Regions from separate parts of the Homo sapiens genome. Here region 2 is linked to region 1. A link means that fine-mapping ties the variant in region 1 to the expression of a gene that starts in the linked region. Tissue or cell type: whole blood. Region 1 holds a variant in brackets; the other region holds the start of a gene. All regions are shown on one strand. Distances are between the middles of the regions.

The links. PIP is the estimated chance that this variant, and not a neighbour inherited with it, causes the effect.
Region 2: it holds the start of RPS6KA5, and the variant in region 1 is fine-mapped to the expression of RPS6KA5 in whole blood (TOPMed, PIP 0.96).

What each region holds. Positions count from the first base shown.
Region 1 is chr14:91,138,578-91,143,856 of GRCh38, reverse strand. The region is part of intron 1 of DGLUCY (D-glutamate cyclase); the gene reads right to left. Among named protein-coding and RNA genes, the nearest start is that of SNORA11B, 15 kb to the right of the region's middle. RefSeq lists enhancers at 1,402-1,571, 1,622-1,721 and a silencer at 2,858-3,152. The variant G/A (reference allele first, on the strand shown) is at 2,498.
Region 2 is chr14:91,057,637-91,062,636 of GRCh38, reverse strand. RPS6KA5 (ribosomal protein S6 kinase A5) reads left to right here and starts at 1,996. Exons shown (of 17, transcript NM_004755.4): 1 at 1,996-2,305. The coding sequence starts at 2,203. It also overlaps a transcript of DGLUCY not described here. RefSeq lists silencers at 1,494-1,623, 1,844-1,903, 2,274-2,403, 2,474-2,543 and an enhancer at 1,686-2,266.

The sequences.
Region 1 (5,279 bases):
TGTGGCAAATGAAGATGGAATCCCTACACTTCTCTGGGTTATTGGAAGATTAAATCATGTTAGTCAAATACCCAGCACAATGTCTGGCATAGTCTTGCTCTTTCTCTACTGTATTTCTCCTCTGCTGAACACTGACCAGTGGCTGGGCCCTCACAGGTATATTGTCCCCCCATTCTCTGTGGATGACCATCAACCCCACCCAGGAGCTGAAGGGTGATATAGAGGTTCAAGAAAACATTGGCCACCAGGTGGGAAGAAGTCTCCATCCCATTCCTTGCCAAACATAGATTTGCTGTCAGAAAGGCAGAGCGTGTGGAGAAACGGTTGGAGACCAGGCCACTTGTTTCATTGCAAATCCGTTGTATTTAGATTACACCTAAGGCTTTGTCCTCTTGTCTCTGCTCAGCAAGCCACGAACACTTCCAGATCTGACAGCCTGAGCAAACTGTTCCTCAGAACTGCTGCCAGGCGCGGTGGCTCATGCCTGTAATCCCAGCACTTTGGGAGGCAGAGGCGGGCAGATCACGAGGTCAGGAGATGAAGACCATCCTGGCTAACACATTGAAACCCCGTCTCTACTAAAAATACAAAAAATTAGCCGGGCGTGGTGGAGGGCGCCTGTAGTCCCAGCTACTTGGGAGGCTGAGGCAGGAGAATGGCATGAACCCGGGAGGCAGAGCTTGCAGTGAGCCGAGATTGCGCCACTGCACTCCAGCCTGGGCGACAGAGCAAGACTCCGTCTCAAAAAAAACAAAAACAAAAACAAAACAAAACAAAAAAAGAACTGCCAAAACTGCCATTAGATCCTTTTTTTTTTTTTTTTTTTTGAGAGGGAGTCTCGCTGTGTCACCCAGGCTGGAGTGCAGTAGCACGATCTCGGCTCACTGCAACTTCCGCCTTTCCATTTCAAGTGATTCTCCTGCATCAGCCTCCTGAGTAGTTGGGACTACAGGCATGCACCACCACGCCGGCTAGTGTGTGTGTGTGTGTGTGTGTGTGTGTGTGTGTGTGTGTGTTTAGTAGAGATGGTGTGTTGTGTGTGTGTGTGTGTGTTTAGTAGAGATGGGGTGTCACCATGTTGCCCAGACTGGTCTCGAACTCCTGACTTCAGGTGATCTGCCCACCTCAGCCTCCCAACCCAAAGTGCTGGGATTACAGGCATAAGCCACCGTGGCCAGCTACGATTAGACTTTTGAGTGTTACCAAATAACCAGTACATGTTTGCTCAGGGGTTTGTCAGCAAAGGGCAATGTTATACCTCTTCAGGCAAATTCATTTGAGGTGCACTTTTCTGGGGCTTAGGTGGGGGCAGGGAGGCCTGAGGGACAGGAAGAGATAAGAAATCTTTGCATCTTATTACCCTCTTCTAACTTCCTCTTCTACTCAAAGAAGGAGGGAAAGCCCAGCATTTGGTCCACCCCAGAATAAGTCTTCTGTTACTAAAGAGTTTCATCTTTCTAATGGAAGCCGTGCAGTTTCTATTTGTGACAGGAAGTGTTCTCAAAGTGTAGCTCTCCAGGACCCTGGAGTGCTTGTCAAAAATGCAAATTTCTGGCACCACACTATTCCTACTGAATTAGACTCTGCATAAATGATTGTAAACCTTGGGTAGCAATTCAGACCACAAGTTCTAGAGTCAGATAAATATAGACTGAATGCCAAGCTCCAGCTCTACCACCTGTGATCCTTGAGCAGGTTAATTAACCTCTCTGGCCGGGCACGATGGCTCACGCCTGTAATCCCAGCACTTTGGGAGGCAGAGGCAGATGGATCACCTGAGGTCAGGAGTTCAAGACCTGCCTGGTCAACATGATGAAACCTCGTCTCTACTAAGAATACAAAAATTAGCCAGACGTGATGCTACGTACCTCTAGTCCCAGCTACTGAAGAGGCTGAGGCAGGAGAATCGCTTGAACCTGGGAGGCAGAGGTTGCAGTGGGCCGAGATCACGCCACTGCACTCCAGCCTAGGCGACAGAGCAAGACTCTGTCTGAAAAAAAAAAAAAGGCCGGGCGCAGTGACTCACGCCTGTAATCCCCGTACTTTGGGAGGCTGAGGCGGGCGAATCACCTGAGGTCGGGAGTTCAAGACCAGCCTGACCAACGTGGTGAAAGCCCATCTCTACTAAAATTACAAAGTTAGCTGGGTGCAGTGGTGCATGCCTGTAATCCCAGCTACTGGTGAGGCTGAGGCAGGATAATCACTTGAACCCAGGAGGCGGAGGTTGCAGTGAGCCAAAATTGCGCCATTGCACTCCAGCCTGGCGACAGAGTGAGACTCCGCTTCAAAAAAAAAAAAAAAAATTAACCTCTCTGAGTATCCATTGTATCACCTGTGTGAAGGTAATGCTGAACAGTCAAGGGATATGGATCTCATGTGATCGTTCTAAGGATGAAATGGAATAATATTTGTTTAGCAGTGTTTGGCACATAGTAAATGTTCAATATACGATAACTCCTTTTTTTCCTTTTCTTTTTTTTTTTTTAGATGGCGTCTC[G/A]CTTTGTCACCCAGGCTGGAGTGAAGTGGTGCAATCTCAGCTCACTGCAACCTCTGCCTCCCAGGTTCAACCGATTCTCCTGCCTTAGCCTCCTGAGTAGCTGGAACTACCACACCCAGCTAATTTTTGTATTTTTAGTAGAGACAGGGATTCACCATGTTGGCCAGGCTGGTCTTGAACTCCTGGCCTCAAGTGATCCACGTGCCTCAGCCTCCCAAAGTGCTGGGATTATAGGTGTGAGCCACTGTGCCCAGCCTGATAACTATTCTTTTTCTATAACACTTACACTCAAGAAAGTCGGAGCACCCTACAAGAAATAACAGACAAACTCGGCCATCATGACCAGCCTTAAGAACTATCCACTGGTAGAAATTTTGACAAGTCTACAGGTCAGCAATCAGACCTGAAGGTTTCCTGAGTCTCATGAAATCCTACAGGATTCACATCTGATCCTCAACAATAGACCAGCCAGGAGAGGGCAGCAAGAGAGAGCCTGAGTCTAACCATTGCTGTTTGAATCACAACCCCTAGGTGTTGTGGGCACTTTACTTGGGAATGTCCAGGTTGATACTCATTTCAAAAGATGGCAGATCTGCTGGCTAGAGGTGTGGCAGCACAGATTACGAATGGGTGGTGACTGTTTATCAGGCTCTTGACTTTCATAAATTATTTTCTTGTTTGTTTGTTTTGGAAAGGGGTCTCACTCTGTCATCCATGCTGGAGTGCAATGGCGTGATCTAGGCTCACTCCAACCTCCGCCTCCCAGGTTCAAGAGATTCTCCCACCTCAGCCTCTCCAGTAGCTGGGATTACAGGCATGTGCCATCATGCCTGGCTAATGTTTGTATTTTAGTAGAGATGGGGTTTCACCATGTTGGCCAGGCTGCTCTTGAACTCCTGACTTCAGGTGATCCGCCAGCCTCAGCCTCCCAAAGTGCTGGGGTTACAGGCTTGAGCCACCGCACCCGACCCATAAATTATTTTCTTTAGATAATCACTCAAGCATCACTATATTGTAGGAAACAACAACATGTCATTGAGACATAGATTTTGGGAGACAGTTTAAATCAAACTGGCAAACTTTTTTGTAAGGTTTGTGAGCTAAGAATAGGTTTTACATTTTTAGGAGTTGTGAAGAAGGAGAAGAAGGAGGAGGAGGAAAGGGAAGAGGAGAAACAACAGTATTGTGAAGGAAAAACAAAAACTTGAACCCTGGTTCACTCTGCCAGAAGGAAGAAAATGAAGCTGAAAGCTGAGTCATGCAAGAATCTGTCTTTCCTTTTGTTCCTAAGCAGATAGCTACACATAAAAGGTTAAAGATCTCTGCAGGTAGTTACTCTATGTTCACCTTATCTTACAGAGAGTGCTGACTTACTATTCCCCTACCTGCTCCCTTTCTCTTGCAACATGGGGATTCAGTCATGTGACCACAGCCTCCCTCTTCCCCCTCCATCCTGCTTTCTCCCCTTTTAAATCCTGAAGTCCTCAAAATCATCTTTGGAGAAAGGCACAGACCCATCTCCTGGGCTTGTCCTTAACCTTGGCAAAATAAACTTCTAAATTGATTGAGAACTGTCTCAGGTACTTTTTGGTTTACAGTGTGATGGTCAATTTTATGTGTCACCTTGATTGTATCACAGGGTGCACAGACATTTGGTTAAACTTCATTTTTTTTGAGACAAAGCCTCAACTCTGTTGCCCAGGCTGGAGTGCAGTGGCACGATCTCGGCGCACTGCAACCTCTGCCTCCCGAGTTCAAGCTATTCTACTGCCTCAGCCTCCCAAGTAGCTGGGATTATAGGCACAAGCCACCACATCCAGCTCATTTTTGTATTTTTAGTAGAGACGGGGTTTCACCATGTTGGCCAGGCAGGTTTCAAACTCCTGACCTCAAGTGATCCACCTGCCTTGGCTTCCCAAAGTGCTGGGATTACAGGTATGAGCCAACACGCCCGGTCTGGTTATTTCTGGGTACATCTGTGAGGGTGTTTTGGGGTGAAATTAGCATTTGAATCAGTAGACTGAGTAAGGAGGATCCCATCCTTACCAATGGCAGTGGTCATCATGCAGTCTACGGAGGACTCGAAGAGAACAAGGAGGAGGAGGAAGGGAGCATTTGCTCTCTGCCTGGCTGACTGAGCTGGGCCTTTTCCTGTCCCTGTACTGGGATTTGCCCCATCAGTGCTCCTGGTCCTCAGGCCTTTGGACTCAGACTGGAATTTAGTCCTTATCTCCAGCTTGCAGATGGCAGATAGTGGAACTTTTCAGCCTCCATAATCCTGTGAGCCAATTCTTTATACTAAATCTGTTTGTCTATATCTGTATCTCCTATTGGTTCTGTTTCTCTGGAGAACAATGACTAATAGAAACAGAGATGCATGTGTCGTGGAAGCCTAAAATATTTAAAATATCTGGTTCTTTACCTAAAAGTTTGTTGAGCTCCTGCTCAGGAGCTGACTTTTGATTGAGCTCATGGTCTCGAAGGCCAATATAACTTAGATTCATGCCCCATCTGATATGGTCTGGCTCTGTGTCCCCATCCAAATCTCATCTCAAATTGTAATCATCATCATCCTCATGATGAGGAAGGGACCATGTGTGAGATGACTGGGCCATGGGGGTAGTTTCCCTGTTCTCATGACAGTGAGTGAATTCTCACGAGATTTGATGGCTTAAAATTGTGACATTTCCCCCCTCCCTCTTGCTCACTCTCTCCTGCCACCTTGTGGAGGTGCTTAAATCTCCTTTGCCTTCTGCAATGAATTTAAGTTTCCTGAGGCCTC
Region 2 (5,000 bases), 81 kb after region 1:
AACTGCCCTTGAGCTAAGGATTGTTTATATATATATATATATATATATATATATATATATATATATATATATATATATTTTTTTTTTTTTAGACAGAGTCTCGCTCTGTTGCCCAGGCTGAAGTGCAATGGTGTGATCTCGGCTTACTGCAACCTCCGCCTGCCAGATTCAAGCAATTCTCCTGCCTCAGCTTCCTGAGTAGCTGGGATTACAGGCGCCCACCACCATGCCTGGCTAATTTTTTGTATTTTTAGTAGATTCAGGGTTTTGCCATGTTGGCCAGGCTGGTCTTGAACTCCTGACCTCAGGTGATCCATCTGCCTCAGCCTCCCACAGTGCTGGGCTTACAGGTGTGAACCACTGCGCCTGACCTGTTTTTATATTTTTAAGTGATTCAAAAATAATTAAAAGAAGAATATATTACGATACATGAAAACTATGTGAAATTCAAATTTCAATGTCCATAAAAAATATTCTATTGGAACACAGCTACTTCTTTTATTTATTGTCTATGACTGCTTTTGCGCTACAATGGCAGAGCTGAGTAGTTGTGAAAAAGGTCATACAGCTTGCAAATCCTAAAATATTTACTATCTGGCCCTTAATAGAAAAAAGTGTGCTGACTCCTGATCCAATCCATGCTTAGTTTAAAAGATCACATCTATCTGAATTACGTCCAACTGTACATCTTTAAGTTTCTGCTTTTTCCCATTCTCGTGTCTGCTACTAGAAATCAGGTTCCCTTTAGTTCTATCCTTGCAGCAGGATTCCTGCCCTGCTATCTCTCTCCTCTTTTCAGTTCATCACTGTGTACTAAAAAAAATCTGCACTCTTCAGCACAGCATCCCTAGTTCCCCATTATCTTACCACACCTCACCTTGTCAGCTGTATCTCTTACATCATACTTTCATCTAACCTTATCAATCACTTAACCCACCCTTGCCTTCTCTGCTGTAGGCCAATGCTCACAGTTACTCTCTCTGTGTGGAATGTCTATTGCTGGTATTTCTCTCTTATCCATCCTTTACGTTGGTTATCTCAAATGCCTCCTTGCCCTAAAAGCTTTCCCCAGTTCCTCGTCTGGGAATAATTATTGCCATCCGTGCGAGATTCTCTAACGCTTTGTACGACTGCTTTATTTCAAATTCTGCTTTATAGTTCTTTTGTGTACACACACAGATTGTTTCTCACGTTCTATTGAAAGCTGCTTAGGGGAGGAATTGTATTCTATTTTGTTAATCTCTGCATCCTTTCGGCGCCTAGTAAGAGTCTTGTACGAAACAGAAATGTCTCTCCTTCGTAAAATTCCTCATCGGGAGCTGGGACTGTGAATTTTTGTAACGTTTAAGAACTATCTGTTATTTAAGAACAAACACTCTGCTTAACTTGTTTAGGGTTCACTAGAGCGAGTAAGACCTTTTTAGGGCACGCCGTCTCGCTGGTTGTCACACACGCATGGATCGCTGCCGGGACCCTTAGGTTTGTCTGCAAACACGTGGGTGATAAGCGCTACCCTCCAGGCCCCTCCTCTGTCCACGGTGATTGGCGGACCAAACGTTCCAATCATCCCTCCCCGCCTCTTTCGGCAGTAGCCAATCAGAGACCCCGAGCGCCTCCTGACTACTAGACACTGTTTACTAACAGATCGAAGCTGGGGAATAAGGGGTGTGACCGTTCTGGGGAGGTCAGGGAAGGGAAGGTCTTGACTGCGAGTGCGCACCAGAGGAAATGGGCGGGGCAGAGCTTTGGGTCTCACCAATCGGAGTGGCGGCGCTCCTCCCTCTCCTGCCTCCCCGCCAAGCAACAACAATTCGAGGAGCGAGGCGGGGAGGCTCGTGAAACGTCACAGCGTACTGCCCAATGGGAACCGGCGTTGGCAGACGCGCGCGCCCTGTGTCCAATCAGCGAAGGCGGCTCGAATGGCTCCCTTACCTTGCTGGCTGTGGGCGGAGCGGCCTGAGGAGGCGGCGGTGGAGCAGGGGGCGGTTTGGTTGCGCGGTACTAGCGGTGCCCGCCGAAGGGGGAGGAGGCGAGGAGCGAGCCGTGCGGCCAGAGCGGGAAAGAGACTCGTCTTTGCGTCCGAGTTCTGGAGCCGCCGCACCCCGACTCCTGGGGCCGCGGCAGCGGCTGCGAGGGGACGGGCGTCCGCTGTCTCCTGGGTTCCCCTCGTAGCGACCCGCGGGATCGGAAAAAAAGGAGAAGATGGAGGAGGAGGGTGGCAGCAGCGGCGGCGCCGCGGGGACCAGCGCGGACGGCGGCGACGGAGGAGAGCAGCTCCTCACTGTCAAGCACGAGCTGCGGACTGGTGAGCGACCCCGCCCTCTGCCGGCCGGGCCCGGCGCGGGGGCGCGCCTGAGGGCACGCGGGTGCCCGCGCGGGGCTGGGGGCGCGGGGCCGCAGCCGTGGGCGCGGAGGGGCGGGCCTGGGGCGGGGCGTCGCGGTCGGGGCGCGTGCCCCGGGGGTCCCGGGAGGTGGGGGCGCGCCTTGGGGGAGGCGGCCGAAAGTTTTCCCCAGCCCGGGAATGAGCGGCGGGCACCAGGCATCGGGGCCAGCGCAGCCGCCGACCGCTGCCCGTGGCACGCACCTCCGAGGATGTCGCTGCTCCCCCTTCCCGCACAGGTGACACACGTGTGTCTGCGTCCTGTCAGGGCGAAAGGTGCGCCTGCCTCCGCGTGGGGCGAGCGGCGCTTTGTTTTGGAGAGTGTCTCCCTCCTCCGCCCCTCTGGTCCCCGCGATGGGGGGTCCCGGTGGGGCTCTGTGGAGCCATCCCCTAAGGTGCTGGGGTCCTGTAGGAGATAAACGGGAGGTTTCGCCTCGGGCTTTTACCGAGTCCAGTCTAGAGACAGGAACAGGAATCGCCGGCTCCAGGGATTGAGTGCCTTTATTCTCACTTATCATGAAATACTATACTTGGCCTTGAATTTCCTTCAGAGGTCCCTGGAGATGATGGCTTTAGAAATTTAAAGCTCCAGGTAAAAGGAACTAACGAGCAGGCTTCAGCGCTTACGTTCTAATGTTTGAGATCACTAGCGTTGTCCTAAGCTTTATAACTAATTAAATGTATTCGTGGTGTAGGTTCAGGTTGTTCATTTTGGAAAATGCTTATTCAGACCAATCAGTACAATTTGGATTTATATTCTTGGAGCCCAGTCTCGTATTGTAGATATATTAATACTTTTTTCTCTGAACAGATAGTACATTTTAATGAGTCGTTCGTTATTACTAGATATGTTTGTGAGCGTTGAAGGTTTTTGACAGAGCTGCTTTGGCATATTGGGATTTTTTTTTTTTTTTTTCAGACAGAGTTTCGCTCTTGTTGCTCAGGCTGGAGTGCAGTGGCATGATCTCGGCTCACCGCAGCCTCCGCCTCCCGGGTTCAAGCGATTCTCCTGCCTCAGCCTCCGGAGTAGCTAGGATTACAGGCATGCGCCACCATGCCCGGCTAATTTTGTATTTTTTGTGGGGGCGGGGTGGGGGGGGCGGTCCTCTCCACGTTGGTCAGGCTGGTCGCGAACTCCCGACCTCAAGTGATCCGCCCGCCTCGGCCTCCCAAAGTGCTGGGATTACAGGCGTGAGCCACCGTGCCCGGCCGGGTTATTATTTAATTGTGAAGGCACAAAAGCTTAAACGGCAGGATTCAGGTGTCCACTAGTACATCTTGTTTCTGTTTTGAACAGATTGGAAAGTTAGCTCTGTCCGTCAGTTCTTTCAGTTTTTGTTATTTCTACTGAGATTGCCTATAAGCATTCCATTGGGTGCCAGTGTGGTGACTTAATTCAAGAGAGATGTCAAATTCATGCTTCTTAATTCAACATTTGTAAACATTGTTTTTTTGGTCATTGTGAATCTGTTATACATCTTGAGCCAGCTGTTCCATATTTTTGAGTTCCTAACATAACCTGTATGAATTCAGGTGATTTGGTTTTTCTTCTCTCAATTTCATAGACAACTGATATTTTCAAAAGACCCTGACATGGTTTACTCAGTATACATTTATTCGGATTTGTGCCACACTCAGTGTCAGGTGCTTTCTGGTGTGAAGATTTTGAATTTTTTTCTTGTCTTACATAACGATCCACTGATTTATATGTATGGAATCCTACTGTACAGCAAAAGCTACTTGAAGTCATATGCTTCTCAGCCATCGACTGTGGTGCAACAAGCAGCTTTTTGCTAAATGACCAAGGAGCAACCTGCTTGTTATTAGTAGTTAACCAACTGCTTGGTTTCTGGATTTTGCAAACAATGCTAGTTTTGTAGAAAACAATGAGTACTGCTTTATTTCCCCCTCTCTTCTAACTGTGTGAATCATCAGCTTCAAGTTCGCATTTTAGAAATTTTTCTGATGGATGGTGAGATTATACTGAATTCATTAGTACTGTTAACTGTCAAAGGAAACGAACAATCATTTTGATTTATTACTGAACACTGGAACAACTGACCGGATATAGTGGTCAAAAACACTGTTAAAATATAACTTGAAAGAGTTGCTCATCTTCAGCCAACTGCACTTCTTTCAGCACATGATCTATAATAGGCACCAGAGTAATTTGATCTGATATGGTCCCGTCTCAGAATGTAGATAAGCATCTAGTTATATCAGGCTGGCAGTTGGTGGTGGCTCATTTGTGCAGAACACTTTATTGTATTCCATAGGATGAATGAAAAAGCAAAAAACGTCCCATGAAAGGACATGGAGTTGGAAGACATGATTCTAAATCCCGTCTCTGCAGCTTAATATGTAGACATCGGCAAGTCACTTCACCCTTTCAGATTCACATCTTTAATCTATAAAATGTGAGAATTGAATGAGACACTGTTGGAAAAGTGCTAAGCGGGTTGCTTGGCATATAGTGGGCCCTTAGGAAATGTTGGTTGAATGTATATATAAAAATCATTCCATAATAGTATCTTATCTTGAAGTGTGTGAATTAATCCAGTGTAATTTGGGAAACAAATCACTCATTTAGTGTTTAGCCTATGTCACATTGCCTGGCTGT